Linked DNA regions of Homo sapiens. The protein of the gene in region 1 interacts with the protein of each later gene in a biochemical or structural test. Each region holds a gene or a part of one and is shown in the gene's direction. Other genes may lie near its edges.

What was found. The genes of interacting proteins can lie anywhere in the genome.
Region 2: the proteins of EGFR (region 1) and SHC1 form a complex in vitro, tested with the Homo sapiens proteins (9 studies listed by BioGRID and IntAct, with this or other methods).
Region 3: the proteins of EGFR (region 1) and PTPN6 form a complex in vitro, tested with the Homo sapiens proteins (3 studies listed by BioGRID).
Region 4: of the proteins of EGFR (region 1) and PTPN1, one has a biochemical effect on the other in vitro, tested with the Homo sapiens proteins (4 studies listed by BioGRID and IntAct, with this or other methods).

What each region holds. Positions count from the first base shown.
Region 1 is NC_000007.14:55,199,716-55,204,504, forward strand, and holds part of EGFR (epidermal growth factor receptor isoform a precursor), read left to right. Parts: intron 1-600; coding exon 601-698; intron 699-1,472; coding exon 1,473-1,640; intron 1,641-2,019; coding exon 2,020-2,067; intron 2,068-2,801; coding exon 2,802-2,910; coding exon of another isoform or gene 2,911-3,050; exon of another isoform or gene 3,051-3,361; intron 3,362-4,789. UniProt on the Homo sapiens protein: Receptor tyrosine kinase binding ligands of the EGF family and activating several signaling cascades to convert extracellular cues into appropriate cellular responses.
Region 2 is NC_000001.11:154,967,948-154,972,247, reverse strand, and holds the start of SHC1 (SHC-transforming protein 1), read left to right. Parts: upstream 1-1,500; 5' UTR 1,501-1,721; coding exon 1,722-2,216; intron 2,217-2,799; coding exon 2,800-2,870; intron 2,871-3,413; coding exon 3,414-3,477; intron 3,478-3,633; coding exon 3,634-3,753; intron 3,754-3,990; coding exon 3,991-4,044; intron 4,045-4,216; coding exon 4,217-4,268; intron 4,269-4,300. UniProt on the Homo sapiens protein: Signaling adapter that couples activated growth factor receptors to signaling pathways. Participates in a signaling cascade initiated by activated KIT and KITLG/SCF.
Region 3 is NC_000012.12:6,950,052-6,954,155, forward strand, and holds the start of PTPN6 (tyrosine-protein phosphatase non-receptor type 6), read left to right. Parts: upstream 1-1,304; 5' UTR 1,305-1,461; coding exon 1,462-1,469; intron 1,470-1,557; coding exon 1,558-1,680; intron 1,681-1,931; coding exon 1,932-2,126; intron 2,127-4,104. UniProt on the Homo sapiens protein: Tyrosine phosphatase enzyme that plays important roles in controlling immune signaling pathways and fundamental physiological processes such as hematopoiesis.
Region 4 is NC_000020.11:50,513,383-50,516,882, forward strand, and holds part of PTPN1 (tyrosine-protein phosphatase non-receptor type 1), read left to right. Parts: intron 1-3,500. UniProt on the Homo sapiens protein: Tyrosine-protein phosphatase which acts as a regulator of endoplasmic reticulum unfolded protein response. Mediates dephosphorylation of EIF2AK3/PERK; inactivating the protein kinase activity of EIF2AK3/PERK.

The sequences.
Region 1 (4,789 bases):
GGTAGTCACATGCAGCAGCACAGTTAACAGTGTGTCCTCCTGTGGAAGTTGCCAGCACAGCCAGCCCTCTCACTTGCATGCATGCCCACCAGCCTTCTCACTTGCATGCATGCCCACTGGGTATGTGCTGTACTGGAGACGCCGGGGGTAGGGGCCCAGTCCCAACCCCAAATTCTTTAAAGCCTATTTTTCTAAGTTGCATCTGGTTTCCTACCTGAAGGAATGCTAAGGGTGGATGTTGAGTGAGGACCTTGGTGCAGGGCACCCTGCAGTCAGGATAGTTCATGGAGAGCAATTGTACAGACCCACACTGCTCCATCCCCTCAGGCGTAACACAGGATGCTGACCCCAGGAAGAGTGGGCGTAGAAAAACTAGAGGGCATTATTGTTATTCTGATTCAAATGTACAGTGCTGGCATGGTCTTTAAACAGTAACCAGTACTAGCTGGCCAAGACAGAAAAGTCTACCACAAAGACTTGGTTCTTTCATCACTTATTTGACTGGAAGTGTCGCATCACCAATGCCTTCTTTAAGCAATGCCATCTTTATCATTTCTTCCAGTGTTCTAATTGCACTGTTTTTTCTCATTCCTTCCCCAGGCTGGATGATAGACGCAGATAGTCGCCCAAAGTTCCGTGAGTTGATCATCGAATTCTCCAAAATGGCCCGAGACCCCCAGCGCTACCTTGTCATTCAGGTACAAATTGCAGTCTGTGCTTCCATTGGGAAGAGTCCCTCTAATGAGCATCTCATGTCACTGTGTTCTGTCACATGCCAGCCTGGCCTCCCTGTGTCCCAGATCGCATTATTAAACCCTCCAGCGCATTAGAGCAAGCCTCAGTAAGGCGCAGGCCACATCGTGAACTAAGCAGCATCCGTGAGTGGGGCCCACCCAACTCCATCTCCCCCTCCCCGTCTGAACTCTCCTCTGGTGCTCGTCCTCACTGTCCGGCTAGCCAAAGCCTCAGCTGGGTCTAAGAGAGAAGCATGGTCTATTGGGCTTTGGTGTCAGGCAGACGTGGCTTCACACCCCTGACTCTCCACTTCTTCGCATCACCCAGGCAGCCGATCCACCTATCTCCTTCCATAACACAGGAATACCAAAACCAAGCTCACAGGATTGTCTCAAAGATTCAATAAAATATGTTGCAAAATACGCTCCCTAACACCTCACAGCAAGGTGCACACTCGATGAATGCTGCAGCTTCTTCCCTTTCTGTTTCCTCAGAAGCTATTTGAATCTCATGTAGGGGCTTTCAAGCATCAAAGGATGGTTCATGTTTTATTTTAAGGCACCCACATCATGTCATGAGGGGAGGCAGCTATAATTTAGAGAACCAAGGGGGATTTCATTATAACAAAATTGGCAAACACACAGGCACCTGCTGGCAATAGACCCCTGCTCCTATAGCCAAGAAGTGGAATAGCATCTCTACGGGCCATTCTAATAGCCTCAAAATCTCTGCACCAGGGGGATGAAAGAATGCATTTGCCAAGTCCTACAGACTCCAACTTCTACCGTGCCCTGATGGATGAAGAAGACATGGACGACGTGGTGGATGCCGACGAGTACCTCATCCCACAGCAGGGCTTCTTCAGCAGCCCCTCCACGTCACGGACTCCCCTCCTGAGCTCTCTGGTATGAAATCTCTGTCTCTCTCTCTCTCTCAAGCTGTGTCTACTCATTTGAACAAATTGAATTTTAGGGAAAATAACCATCTAGTGAAACTCACATGGATATGAAGTCAATTTTAACCAAATGGTAAAATCAAAATCAAAATAAATTAAGTGTATTAATTATTTTGTTGCATTGCAACAACTTGATTGTAAGCCTTTTAGGTCCACTATGGAATGTAATTAAATCAAAACTAAACCTAGTTGCTCTAAAACTAACGATTAAGACAAAAATTAAACACCTTCACAATATACCCTCCATGAGGCACACCACCTGCATTCAGGAAAAGTGGATGAGATGTGGTACAAGCATTCCATGGGCAACTTCTCTGTTTCTTTTTCAGAGTGCAACCAGCAACAATTCCACCGTGGCTTGCATTGATAGAAATGGGGTATGTATGAACACCTTATAAGCCAGAATTTACAGCTCTCCACTATGGCTCTATTTTACATGGAAAATGCCTTAACCTAAATAATTTTAACCCAGATAATCTTGAGTTTTCTTCCTGTGTGGGTTTTTCCCTGCACGGCTGTCACGCCTCACAGTGCCGTTCAAAGCGTGACTCCTGGACCAGTAGTAGCATCGCCTGGCCTTGTTAGAAACGCCATTTTTCAGGCCACTGCCCCAGTTTGACCAAATCAGGACCTCTGGGGGTGGCACCCAGTAGTCTATGTTTGAGCCACTTTCCAGGTGATGCTGATGTCTGTTGAAGTGTGAGGCCGTGGTCTAGACCGCACTGTGCCATGCAGAAACCACTAGCCACATGTGGCTACTTCAACTTAAATGTTAATGAGTTAAAATGAAATAAAATATAAAATTCAGTTTCTCACACATGTGAAGTGTCCAGTAGCCACACGTGGCTAGTGGTGACCGTATTGAAGAGCACCGCTCATAGCACACCTCCCTCACTGCGGAAAGTTCTGCTGTACAGCACCCAGCACAGCCCTGCTGCCCACCCTGCAGCCTGTGGCCCAGTAGCACCAGCACCCACCAGGGTGCAGACTCTCAGGCCTGCCCAACCTACTAATCAGAACCAGCATCTCAAGGAGATCTCGGGTGATTTTTGCAAACACTGAAGTTGGGGCAGCCCTGACCGGAGTAACCTTCCCTCATTTCCTCCTGCAGCTGCAAAGCTGTCCCATCAAGGAAGACAGCTTCTTGCAGCGATACAGCTCAGACCCCACAGGCGCCTTGACTGAGGACAGCATAGACGACACCTTCCTCCCAGTGCCTGGTGAGTGGCTTGTCTGGAAACAGTCCTGCTCCTCAACCTCCTCGACCCACTCAGCAGCAGCCAGTCTCCAGTGTCCAAGCCAGGTGCTCCCTCCAGCATCTCCAGAGGGGGAAACAGTGGCAGATTTGCAGACACAGTGAAGGGCGTAAGGAGCAGATAAACACATGACCGAGCCTGCACAAGCTCTTTGTTGTGTCTGGTTGTTTGCTGTACCTCTGTTGTAAGAATGAATCTGCAAAATTTCTAGCTTATGAAGCAAATCACGGACATACACATCTGTGTGTGTGAGTGTTCATGATGTGTGTACATCTGTGTATGTGTGTGTGTGTATGTGTGTGTTTGTGACAGATTTGATCCCTGTTCTCTCTGCTGGCTCTATCTTGACCTGTGAAACGTATATTTAACTAATTAAATATTAGTTAATATTAATAAATTTTAAGCTTTATCCAGATACTCATAACCTGCTAACACACACACATATACACACACATACACATACACACATATACACACACCACACACATACACAGACACCACACACATACCATACACAGACACATACACATGCACACACATATACACACACACCTCAAATACATACACACCACACACACATACATGTATACACACATACACACACCACACATACACCACAAAAACCCCACACACATACACATATACACACCACACACACCACATACACACACGTATACACACATATATACACACATACACCATGCATACATACACACCACACATACATACAGACACACCACACACACGTACACACAACACACAACACAGACACGTACACACACTACAGACATGTATGCACACATACACACACACCACACATACATACACACAGACACATATACACTACACACACCATTACATACACACGTACACATACACCACACACACCACACATACACACACCACACACACATACGCCACACACACACCACAAAAACCGCACACACATACAAACATATACACACTACACCACACATACACACACACACCACACACCACACACACACATACACACACCACACACACCACACATACACGCACCACACATACACACACGTAGACACACCACACACACCACAGAAACACACATTAACACACCACATACACATATGTATGTGCATATACACACCCACACCCCACACACACATGTATAAAGATTTAGATATATATAAAACATATGTTATATATATGTTGATGTAATATCTAATATCTATATATCTAATATGTAGTTTATTAGCTATCTAATATCTATGTCATATATATCAAAATCTTTATATATAAAAATATGTAGAAATCTTTATACATATGTTATATGTATATAAAGATTTAGATATATAACATATGTAAGTTATATATATGTTAGTGTAATATCTAATATATAGTTTATTGGCTATCTAATATAATATAAACAGATTATCAATATTATAAGCTATTAGAAAAATGCAAGTTAAGGCAGATGATATACCTCTTTACACACCAACTACACACACCAACTACACACACACATACACACAGACACACACGACACACACCATACACATGTACACACACACCACATATACACAAACGTACACACACACCACACACACATACACACCACACACACACCACACATACATACACATCCACACACCACACATGTACACACGCCACACACACACATACACACCACATACACATATGTATGCACACATACACACCAACACCACACAGACACCACACATGCATAAACATATAGACATATACACACCACACACCATATGTACACATGTACACACACACCACATATACACACAACACACACAAATACACACACCACACACACACCACAAAAACCCCACAC
Region 2 (4,300 bases), on another chromosome or scaffold:
TTGAGACGGAGTTTTGCTCTTGTCACCTAGGCTGGAGTGCAATGGCTCGATCTCGGCTCACTGCAACCTCCGCCTCCTGGGTTCGAGCGATTCTCCTGCCTCAGCCTCCTGAGCTGGGATTACAGGTGCCCGCCACCACGCCCAGCTAATTTTTGTATTTTTAGTAGAGACAGGGTTTCACCATGTTGACCAGGCTGGTCTCGAACTCCTGACTTCAGGTGATCCACCCGCCTCAGCCTCCCAAAGTGCTGGTATCACAGGTGTGAGCCACCGCGCCCGGTAGGAATACGTATCTTTGTTTTTTTTTTTTTGGTCACTTTCCAGCTTTGCCTGTGGCATTCTCCGGAAGAGCAGTGGCAGGAAGCCGTGGGTGGCAGGAATGGGTTTGGGACTGTTCCCTGTGTCCAGCTTCAACCCATCTTCTCCTGACACCCCTTTCTCCTGTACTTATTTTTCTCCTGTCCTTATTGACGCAGATGTGTCTTCTGATCTCTCTGTCCCTTCCTGGCCTGTAGTTTCTACTTCTCTTGGAGAACTGTTTCTTCCACCTCCTCCAGCCAGGCTCCTTCCCTGGTGTGAAGGATGCTGTGCTCTTTGGTGGGGCTTAGGGCCCTGTAAGAGGAGGGATGTGAATTGGGGTGGTTTGGAGTGGGAGTGGGGACCTGATTGCCTCATTCTCACCCTTGACAGTGTGCTGTGTTAACAAGCCCTGTGGAAAGGGGAGACAGGACAGTGCTTGGCTATGAGCCATCGGTCTTGGTGTGGTAGATGGCATACGTAGAGAACAAGCCGTGACCAGCATGTCCTCTTGTTCCCTTCTTGCCTGGTAGCTTCCTGATGTATCATCCAGGTTGAACTTTATTCCCCTTTTTTCACCAGCTTTGCTCTTCCTCTTGGCCCTGCTCTGCATCCATTGGGACCACTTACTTCCCATCCCCACTTCGCTAGCTCCAGTCCACAGCTGCTGTAGCAGAGGATGCTAATGGCCCAGGCTTACTGTATGGGGTAGCGGTTGGGGGTGGCCTGGGCTGGGGCCAGCCAGCTTTCGGGCATAGAGAGGGTGGGGGAATTCGAGTGTCCAACCAGGACAGGAAGGGAAATGCTGAGCTCTGAGATCTCCTCCCTTTTCCACCCCCAGCTGCCTCTGTTTCCTCCCTCATTCCCCTGTACTCCTGCCTGGCTTCCTGCCCCCTTTGGCCTGCGTGTGTCCGGTTTTGAGTGACCCAGACCTCCTATCTCCTTCCTTTCCGTCCCACTCTTCCATCCTTCCCTCCCACCCCCACTTTACTTCTCCCCAGATTACTAGTTGTTTGTATAGGGCAGGGGAGAGGGGCTTGGATAGCCCTACCCCCTGCTCCAGTTCGAGGTTGGGGCGGGGTGGGGGCTCAGCCCCTCTGAGCCTGTGAGTCAGCACTGTCCTCACGATTGGTCTCTCCCCTTAGCTCCCCGCCCCTGGGGAGGAGCCAGAAGCGCTGGGTCCAGCCTGTTCTCTTCTCAGCCAGAGAAGAGGCTCCACGTTGGGCGGGGATGGGGCCTGAAACTGTCTGGGTCTGAGCTGGGGAGCGGAAGCCACTTGTCCCTCTCCCTCCCCAGGACTTCTGTGACTCCTGGGCCACAGAGGTCCAACCAGGCTAAGGGCCTGGGGATACCCCCTGCCTGGCCCCCTTGCCCAAACTGGCAGGGGGGCCAGGCTGGGCAGCAGCCCCTCTTTCACCTCAACTATGGATCTCCTGCCCCCCAAGCCCAAGTACAATCCACTCCGGAATGAGTCTCTGTCATCGCTGGAGGAAGGGGCTTCTGGGTCCACCCCCCCGGAGGAGCTGCCTTCCCCATCAGCTTCATCCCTGGGGCCCATCCTGCCTCCTCTGCCTGGGGACGATAGTCCCACTACCCTGTGCTCCTTCTTCCCCCGGATGAGCAACCTGAGGCTGGCCAACCCGGCTGGGGGGCGCCCAGGGTCTAAGGGGGAGCCAGGAAGGGCAGCTGATGATGGGGAGGGGATCGTAGGGGCAGCCATGCCAGACTCAGGCCCCCTACCCCTCCTCCAGGACATGAACAAGCTGAGTGGAGGCGGCGGGCGCAGGACTCGGGTGGAAGGGGGCCAGCTTGGGGGCGAGGAGTGGACCCGCCACGGGAGCTTTGTCAATAAGCCCACGCGGGGCTGGCTGCATCCCAACGACAAAGTCATGGGACCCGGGGTTTCCTACTTGGTTCGGGTGAGTGAACATCCTCCTCTCCATTCCCCCGCAGACCCCCTCCAGTTCTAATGCTCACTCCAGCTTGGCCGGAATCTCTTTTTTCCTGCTGTTCCCCAACAACCCCGTTTCAGTGTCCTATTTCCTAAACCTTTCTCATCCCTTCCCCGATTCTGTAGCCCCTTCCCTTCCAGCTTTGCCTGGGCCCCCTTCCTTCTTTTCACTCCCCCACCCCCACCCTGGCATGCTTAGCACAATGCCCAGCATGGCAGAAGCTCTTAATAAGTGTTGGAATGAATGACTTCTTGATCTTTCCTCCATTCTCCTCCCGCTTTCTGGAGTTGTCACTCCATCCCAGCCAATGCCTGTCGGTCCCCTCCAAACTCTCTCCCCAGTGTGTGAGGTCCTTCTAGCCTGCCTTTTCTTTTTCTCCTCATTCCCTGTTGTCTTTCACCTTGGTTGTGGGATGTAGCCACGGGAAGTGGGCAGAACTTCTTCCTCTTTACTTCCCTTAGGGACCATATGGGTAAAGTCCTAGGGCCCTTTGTGAAGGGGCTGGGGTGGGGGAGCCGCTGACCTGCTGTCCTCTTCTCCCTCCCCTTAGTACATGGGTTGTGTGGAGGTCCTCCAGTCAATGCGTGCCCTGGACTTCAACACCCGGACTCAGGTCACCAGGTTAGTGGGGAGGGAGTGGATTGTGGGAGTCCTGGGATTAGTGAGGCCATGGGAAACAGAGGAGGGGAGTGGGTCACTTGGGTGCTGCTGCTGGGGGCTGATCTTTGCGTAGTAAAGGGGATTGAGAGAAAGCTGAGGTAGTGATTCCGCCTCTTACTGAAAGGAGGCCCCTTTGGCCCGGATCCTCCTTACCTATCCAGCCTTGGGAGTTGTGGGGAAGGTGGCAGAAGCAGCTGGCAGGTGGAGCTGGAGTAGAAAAGGGGGGTAGATGGAAGGTTGCTGCTGCCTTTGGGAAGGGAATGGGACATTTGGTAGCTGGAAGGGGGTGGGGCTATACCCATTGAGGCCCTAACCCAATCAGCCAGGAAGTGGCCTCTCAGTGTCATCAAATATTAAAGGCCCTTAATTCAATCCACCATGACAAAGAGCCTGGAGTGCCCTGGGAGTCTGGCCTGGCTTTCCCCTCCCCCAGCCCTGTGGCAGCCCCAGTTGAGTGGGAGGCAGGCAGGCAGGCGCTGGGTCTGAGTACCCCTCTTTCCCCAGGGAGGCCATCAGTCTGGTGTGTGAGGCTGTGCCGGGTGCTAAGGGGGCGACAAGGAGGAGAAAGGTACTTGGGGTCCTTGGGGATAGGGATGCTGCTGGGAAATGTGGAGGGGCAGTGGGGAGGCAAGTGTGGGGCATGTGGGGAGAGGGCCAGGAGGCAAAAGTGTGGTTTGCCTGTGCTGGGAACCCTCACCTTCTGAGACCCTGGGCCCTACCTTAGCCCTGTAGCCGCCCGCTCAGCTCTATCCTGGGGAGGAGTAACCTGAAATTTGCTGGAATGCCAATCACTCTCACCGTCTCCACCAGCAGCCTCAACCTCATGGCCGCAGACTGCAAACAGGTTGGTGAAGGTGGGCAGACGGACCAGAAACACTGATGGGGGTGCTAAGGGGAGATCTAGTTAGGAGGCCAAAATCTAGGAAGAGGGCTTGAGAGCAGGAGACCAGTAGGGAAGGAGGAAATGAGGATATGGGATAAGGAACCCAGAGAATGAGACTGGGGCACCAGGGTTCTGGGCCCTGAGGCTGCCTGACACATGGCATTCCCTTCCTTCTTCATCCCCTGCCCTAATTCTCAGATCATCGCCAACCACCACATGCAATCTATCTCATTTGCATCCGGCGGGGATCCGGTGAGTTGGGGAACAGAGCAAAGGCGGTGGGAGAAGAGCAAGGGGCTAGGGATTGGGAAGACATTGATTAGAGAAGTGGGGGTGCTAGGATTGTGGGGATATCTGAAAAGGACTGGGTTTTAGGGGTCAGGAGTAAAGTAGAACTGTAAAATTTTTTGACCTTCCTCCCCAGGACACAGCCGAGTATGTCGCCTATGTTGCCAAAGACCCTGTGAATCAGAGAGGTGAGGCATGGTGGGGAGCACTGGGTGGGTCT
Region 3 (4,104 bases), on another chromosome or scaffold:
TTACAGGCGTGAGCCACTGCGCCCGGCCAACTTCACGTTTATACACACCCATGCAAACAGCATCCAGATAGAGACAAAGAGCCTTCCCTGTACCCTAAAAGTTTCCCAGAAATTGTTCCCAGTTAGCATATTTATTTTTATAAAGGTAATGCATGCCCATCATATAACATTCAAAAAGGTATGTAGAGAACCAAGTGTCTCCCCCAGCCCTGTCCTCCAGCCACCCAGTTTCCCTCCCTAGGGGAAGCCACCAATATGTGTTTCTTATGTATCCCCTGTTGAGCTGCTTTTCCTCGTTTTGGTTTGGCGGTGTTGATGTTTGTATTTGGAATTACAGGTAGGCAGCATCATATACCTTAGTGTTTAGGGCCTCTAAGATCAACCAGCCCTGAGAAAATCAGCCATGGTGAGGACCTTGTCCCCCAGCCCCCCAGGAGATAGGCCCCCTGGTGGGAGTGCTGGGGCAGGGCAGAGGCCTAGGGACAAGAATTAGAAAGGACCCATGTTGACAGGGCTGCTCAGGGTCATGTTGTCCATCCCTCTGCCACAGTGGCATGGACAAACTGCATATGTTGGTTAGAGGAGGGCACCCTTCTCTCTTGCAAGCATTGGCAAGGTCTTAACTATTAGTCTCCTGCTCCCATGGCAGCCCCTTTGGACAAGGAGGCTCTTAATCTCTGTTCTTTGAAGCCCTGAGGGCTGGTGTATAGGAGTTCAAAGCACTGGCTTTGGAACCGGACTGTCTGGGTTTGAATCCTGGCACTGCAGCTGACTCACTGATGGACTCAGGCAATGCCTTAAACTCCCTGAGCCTCAGGTTCCTTGTCTGTAAAATGATAAAGATAGCCCCTGTTTCATAGGGCTGTGGTGAGAAACCAATCAGACAAGGCATGTGAACGCCATTATAGCACAGCGCCCGGCATCCAGCAGGACTCACTCGATGACAGTTGTCACCGCCATCATTGTTATTAGCGTGGGCCAGGGAGGGCTGCGTAAAAGCAGCTGGTGGAGGAGGGAGAGATGCCGTGGGACCGTCTGGGTTCGCATGCGTGAAGTATTATCTGGGCCTGGAGTGTGCAAGGCACACATGTGTCCTTACTGCATGTGTTGTCACATATGTGCAATGCCATGCTCCTGAGCCTTTGATTGCAGACGTGTGGGAAGTGGGCCCCGTCCCCACCCCCAGTGCCACCCTGCTCTGCTTCTCTTCCCTTGCTGTGCTCTAAAACGAGAAGTACAAGTGAGTTCCCCCAAGGGGTCGGCCGCGCCTCTTCCTGTCCCCGCCCTGCCGGCTGCCCCAGGCCAGTGGAGTGGCAGCCCCAGAACTGGGACCACCGGGGGTGGTGAGGCGGCCCGGCACTGGGAGCTGCATCTGAGGCTTAGTCCCTGAGCTCTCTGCCTGCCCAGACTAGCTGCACCTCCTCATTCCCTGCGCCCCCTTCCTCTCCGGAAGCCCCCAGGATGGTGAGGTAAGGGCCTGCCACCCACGGTAGACAGGAGGCAAGGGTGCCTGGTGCCCACGGGACCCCTCCTCACTGCCCTGCCTGGGCCGCCCAGGTGGTTTCACCGAGACCTCAGTGGGCTGGATGCAGAGACCCTGCTCAAGGGCCGAGGTGTCCACGGTAGCTTCCTGGCTCGGCCCAGTCGCAAGAACCAGGGTGACTTCTCGCTCTCCGTCAGGTAGGTGGGCCCCCCGCAACCCCGGGCATTTTGGCCACTCTCTTGTGCCATCCAGGCCCTGAACCACTCATTCCTGGTTCCCCGTGGCAGTGCTGACTCCCCGTCTGTTCCCTTGCCCCCAACCCCCACACTCCCCATCCCTGTCTGTGCCCACCCATGCCCATGTGTGCCCCCACCCAGGACCTCAGCCGATCCCTGCCCTCCTGCCTCTACTCCTGCACCGACTGGCCTCACCGCCTGGTGCCCTGCAGGGTGGGGGATCAGGTGACCCATATTCGGATCCAGAACTCAGGGGATTTCTATGACCTGTATGGAGGGGAGAAGTTTGCGACTCTGACAGAGCTGGTGGAGTACTACACTCAGCAGCAGGGTGTCCTGCAGGACCGCGACGGCACCATCATCCACCTCAAGTACCCGCTGAACTGCTCCGATCCCACTAGTGAGAGGTGAGGGCTCCGCACCCCCGCCATTCCCAAGCAGGGATGAGCCGGCTCCCACCCTGAACAGCCAGGGAGGCAGGGAGACTGGCAGCCGGCGCTGCCTACCCTCCATCCCCTCCCCTCCCTGCACCAGCTGGGGCTCTCAATGTCCCTCCTCCCTGCTGTCCTGGGACCTGGTGTCTCAGAGCCTAACCTACCACCCTTTCCACCTAACCCCGAGGAAGCCACAGAAAGCTGCCTCGCCCTACTCCGGGAGCCCTGGCCGCTGCAACCCAGGTCCCACTGGAGACAGGGAGGCCACTGCTGGTGGCCAGCATGTCGTGCAGGCCAGCTCTGTTGTTAGAAAGCTCTTCTTCCTCTGGAATCGAGCCTGCCTTCCTCCGTCTGCCCCTCACCCCAGCACATGTTAGGACAGTGAGGAGCTGACACTGGGGTGAAGATGGGGATGAATGCTTGCCAAGACACTTGATGCCTTGTCCCAGCCGCCCCGTGGGGATGGGTCTGTCCTGTGGGGTCAAATAGGTCTCCGGCCCAAACAGAGATCATTGAGAGCACGATGTGAAGTGTTCACCTGTGTAAAGTGTCTCACGCTGTCCCGGGCACAGAGTAATACTCCAGGCATTTCCTTCCTGTGGCCTCCCCGACTCCTCCTGTGGTCTCCCAAAGGCATGGGCTGGGGGCTGGGGGCTCTGAATGCTCCTCATGACACCATGGCTCCTTTCAGCAGCCGCATCTCAATGCCAGATCCCCTTAGAGTAAAGGGCAGCGGAATAACGCTAGGGGGTTTTCACATGCACCCCTGGGCCAAGCCGACTTGCCCTTGCCGTGGATCCCTGCATTCATGGATCGGTTATTGAAATGATCGGGAACCTTGCTCCTGCCAGCTTGCAGCCTCTCTGAGATTCGGGCCTCCAAACTGCATCAATATTTTTGGTCAAGGCACTGATTGAAACTTAGAGCTGGATTCGGTCACGGTGCAGCCCTGTGGCCCACCTGGGAGGCCTCCTTTCCTGGATCGGCCTCCTTCAAGGCCTTCCCTCTCTCTGTGAGCCTCACATGGCTGGCTCCGTGTCTGCCCCCTGCCCTTCCTCTTCCCCACCGCAACACTCAGGGGGCTTTTGGCACCGAGACCCTCTAAAGCTCATGTCCTCTCTTTCTCCTTGCCTCCAGCCAGGAGAGGAGGACGGGCTGACCAGTGCCTGGAGGTGGAAGAGAGGAGCAGGGCCCCAGGAGGCCCCTGCAGAGGAGGCTGAGGCCTGGGTTCAAGGAGAAGAGAGAAGAGAGAGAAGGAAGGGAGGGCAGTGCCGGGGCGGGAGGTTAAGACCAGGGAAGCCGCACTGGAGGCCCTTTTGGGTGACCCGTCCCAGGAGCCAGTGTCACCCCTGAGCCTGGGAGTGTGTGAGAGGCTCTTTCTCCCAGGTTCTGCTGTGTCCTCTGCCTTGTCTGTGCGCCTCCTCCTCTGCGAGAATTTGCATCTGTCCCTCGGTGGCTCTGCGCTTCCTGTGGTCAGCCTGACATTTGCATGGAGACTTCCTCATCCTGGGGCCTGAGGGAAGGGGCTCAGCCCCCTCCCCGCTACCTGGGGTCCTAGCCTGTCCCCAGGCGGTGGGCTGAAGTAGCCCAGTGGGGTTAGGAGGCTCTGGGGGTCTCTCGGCTGGAGTCACCTCCGGGCAGGGGTGAGATGGGTTGGGACAGACTGGTCCTCCCCTCCTTCCCCCCATCCCTGCGGTTGGAAAATTTGCCCGCCCTCCCCTCGTCCCTGGGCTGAGGAAACCTCACAACCTCACTTCTCACTCTCTCCCCAGAAGGAGTTTTGTGTTTTTTCCATCACGTGGTTTCCTGTGGGGCTGGGCTTTGTGGGGCTACAGTTTCCTCCTGGGAAAGGGGTGTGCTTCGGGGAAAGGGCTTAGTTCTGCTTTCTGCCCTGACAGCCCCTTCAAATCCGTTTGAACCCTGGGCTCCCCTTCAGTGACATCATCCAGGG
Region 4 (3,500 bases), on another chromosome or scaffold:
TGAGCTAGAATGAGAGGAGAGAGGGTTGAGTGAATGAAAAGAATAGCTCATGTGCTCCCCTCCATCTGTAGTTTAAGAGGGGTTGGGTCCGGTGTTTTGCTTGTTTTCTCGTCTGTAAATTCTTTGATTCTCTGACACCACTCACTATATTTCATTGTGAATGATTTGATTGTTTCAGATAAAGGGGACTGCAATAATACCTTGTGACATGAAGGCAAGATTTATTCATGTTAGAGGCAGGCTTTGTAAAATGGGCCACTCTTCCAATTGACATTTGTTTTTATAGCTGTTTTCATTATGAAATACAATCTAATGCCTGACTAGGTTAAAACCATGTTGTAACAATAGTTCACTAAAATTCCTTACTGATATACAGCTTATGTTGTTATATTCCAAAAAGATGAATATTAAAATTTGCCAATAATGTTTATTTAAATACTATTTTCTTCAGAGGAAAAAAAACTATTTTATGCAAAGGAGAAAGATCTATACACTATGACTCACTTCACTTAAAAAAAAAAAGACTAACGGAAATGACATGGAGAGACTGGGAAGTTCTAGTCATCTTGAGTGACCCATTAGATCTAAATGTTCTTGTTTAGCCCTGGTTTGAGTGAACTAAATTTAGGTGTCTGATCAGTACTTTGGAAATGGTGTAAATGCCTTTGTAATTGTCTGGACTGATATTAGATTAACTGGGAGCACAAGTAGAAATAGTGAAGGAAAGAACTTTTTGCTATTGTTATTTGACATCACTGGCATATTTATAGGAATACTTTGGTGTTTTTGGAAGTAAGTAAACCAACCAGTGGTTCTAAAAAGTCAGCTGGGGGATAATGGTAATGCCGCTGTTTCTTAGCTGCAAGTTATCTGCCGTTACTTCTCCTCCATTTTGCATTTTATCTTGAATAGCTCCTCAAAACCTATTAAAATACCTGGTATTGAATAATGTAATTGAATGTGTACTGAATTTCACAGTGGAAATGAATAAGAAATTTCCTGTGGAGGTTTTTTGACTTAGCTACTGAAATAACGGCCTTTTGTTGTGTGATTCTTTCCCTTTTCTCTTTGTTAAAGAAAACTGTCTTGTGATCTTGTAGATTACAGAATCCTTTTGGCAATTTCTGTTCCTAGCACTGCTTTTTCTTTCTTTCTTTCTTTTAAATAGAAATGGGGTTTTGCTGTGTTGCCCAGGTTGGTCTTGAACTCCTGGCTTCAAGCGATCCTCCCACCTTGGCCTCCTGAAGTTGGGATTGCAGGCGTGAGCAGGTACTTTTTCTGAGGCCTGCCTGAGCCTATATATATTTTGCACAATTTGGCATTCCTCCCTACAGTGTTTATGCTGATTTGTTTCTGGTAACAACTAATACTGGCAAATCGGCTGGGCATGTTACTTTATGCTGCCCATATTCAGGAAAATTGGAATTCTAGCTGGGTCATTGTTCCCAGATGATGTAGTTTGGCACCAGCCATTCCATGTTCACATTTTGAGTATCCAGGAGGGCTGGGGACTTTGGAGTAGTTGGTGATTCCCTCTGCCACATTTCACTGGTTGGTCACTATGGCATCCTTTCCACCACACTAGTAGTCTAGGTTCTCAGATGTTGCTTATGAGCCTGCAATGGTTTCTAGTTTCACACTGCAGAAATGAGTGAAGCCGGTTACCCGTTAATATGGTCCCATCATCACTAGAGTAATTCATTGTTCTAAAACCAGATCTGAGTCTCTCACTCCTCTGCAACTACTTCTGATTCTTTCATAACACTTGTAAAGTCCAAACTCCTCTTTAGCATGGCAGCCAGCTTCCAGTCCTTCCCTCCTATGTGGCTTCCATTCTAGCCAGACAAGAAAGGGCAGCGTTCTCCAAACTCATCCTCGCCCTTCATTCCTCTATACCATTGCTGAGCACTTTGTTGAGGATGCCTCTCCCGTTCAATCTAGCTTGCATCTTCCAGCTCGAATGTGTGCTTCCTTGCACCAGAGTTTTGTTCCGTCACCTGTGTGTTTTCATACAAGCTGGCACATATCTCTTCTAAAGCCCTGCTGTCATTGTAGCTGCGTCTTTACAAACATTTTTTTTTTAAATTTTTATAAAGTCAAGGTCTCACTATATTGCCCAGGCTGGTCTCAAACTCCTGGGCTCAAGTGATCCTCCTGCCTTGGCCTCCCAGAGTGCTGGGATTATAGGTATGAGACACTGTGCCCAGCTGTAGCTGCTACTTTATATCCCAGGTCTATCTCCAATGGAGCCCAAGCTTCCTGAGGCCACCTGTTGTATCTTTCTCATTCATCTTGAAGTCCTCTGCTCCTGGCACAGAGTAGGTACCTAACAAGAGTTGGGATTGAATTGATGGTCAGTACTTTGCTAGCCTGATGGTATAAAGATGTACAAAACATGTTCCTGGCTCCCACTCTAGGGGGGCAATGATGGAAACAAATAGATTAGCCCACATTAGTACCAATAGTAGAGGTCACTCTGGGAGAAGGCCCCCACCACATTTTGAGTCATGGCCTAATGAGGTAATTTAGTATTGCCTGCTGCAGTGGCTTTGGAAGAAAGGCTGGCATTCTTAGCCAGTAGAAGCTGATACCACTGATTTGTTTCACAGAAGCTTTAAATATAACAATAAATTTGTGCTTGGCCTACGGTGAACTTTACAGGCAACTTGGAGGTAATATGTTTGTCTCTCTAAGAATTGTTGAATTCCTCTTCCCTCATCCCTCCTGACTGGTTCTCACAAGCCTAGCGGGCCTTTGCATGTGGTTGGTTCATAAAATACTTTTTGATTTTGGGATATAAAATATAGTTCTCCATAAAATAACGACTGTTACCAAGTCTTTGATTTTTTTTTTCAAACTATAAATGGTAATGACATTCTTTGGCCTTTGATCAGACCACCCTTAGGGGCAAGAGAGTAGTTTCATGTTTTGCTTTTTCTAGTGTCCCCTGTGTCTGGGTATAGTTGCAGTCTCAGCTGTCATACTAACAGTGCTGAGTGAGTCCCTTACTTTCTTTGGGTTTTGGTTTCTCCCTTGTAAAAATGATCCTGGACTAACTGATCATTAAGTTCAGGTCAAGTAATAAAAATCCTTAATGTACTCACAAATACAATTTAATGTTCCTGAATAATCCTTGTAAAAACTGCAGCAGTTACTCAGTTTTGTAAGGTGTGGTTGGGTACTATTAGGCTCAAAAGTTTATAGGAGCTTTGTGAGTATAGTTAACAACTCAAAAGAATGGGGTGTTTTTTCCCGAGGGGCATGAAATGTTTTTGATAAATAGAGTTCATTTGACTTGGTAATGTGGAAAATGAGTAGCCCTGACACGTACGCTATGCTTTTGCAGTTTTTCTCTCAAGTAGCAATTGGGTGGCTTTTCCTGTAAAAGATAGAGGAACTGATTCTTGAGAATTTACGAAAGCTTCAACCCTAACTAGGTATGCAAAGAATAGTTGCCCTTTATGTTGTAATTTTAGGAAGAAACCTACATCTGGTCTAAG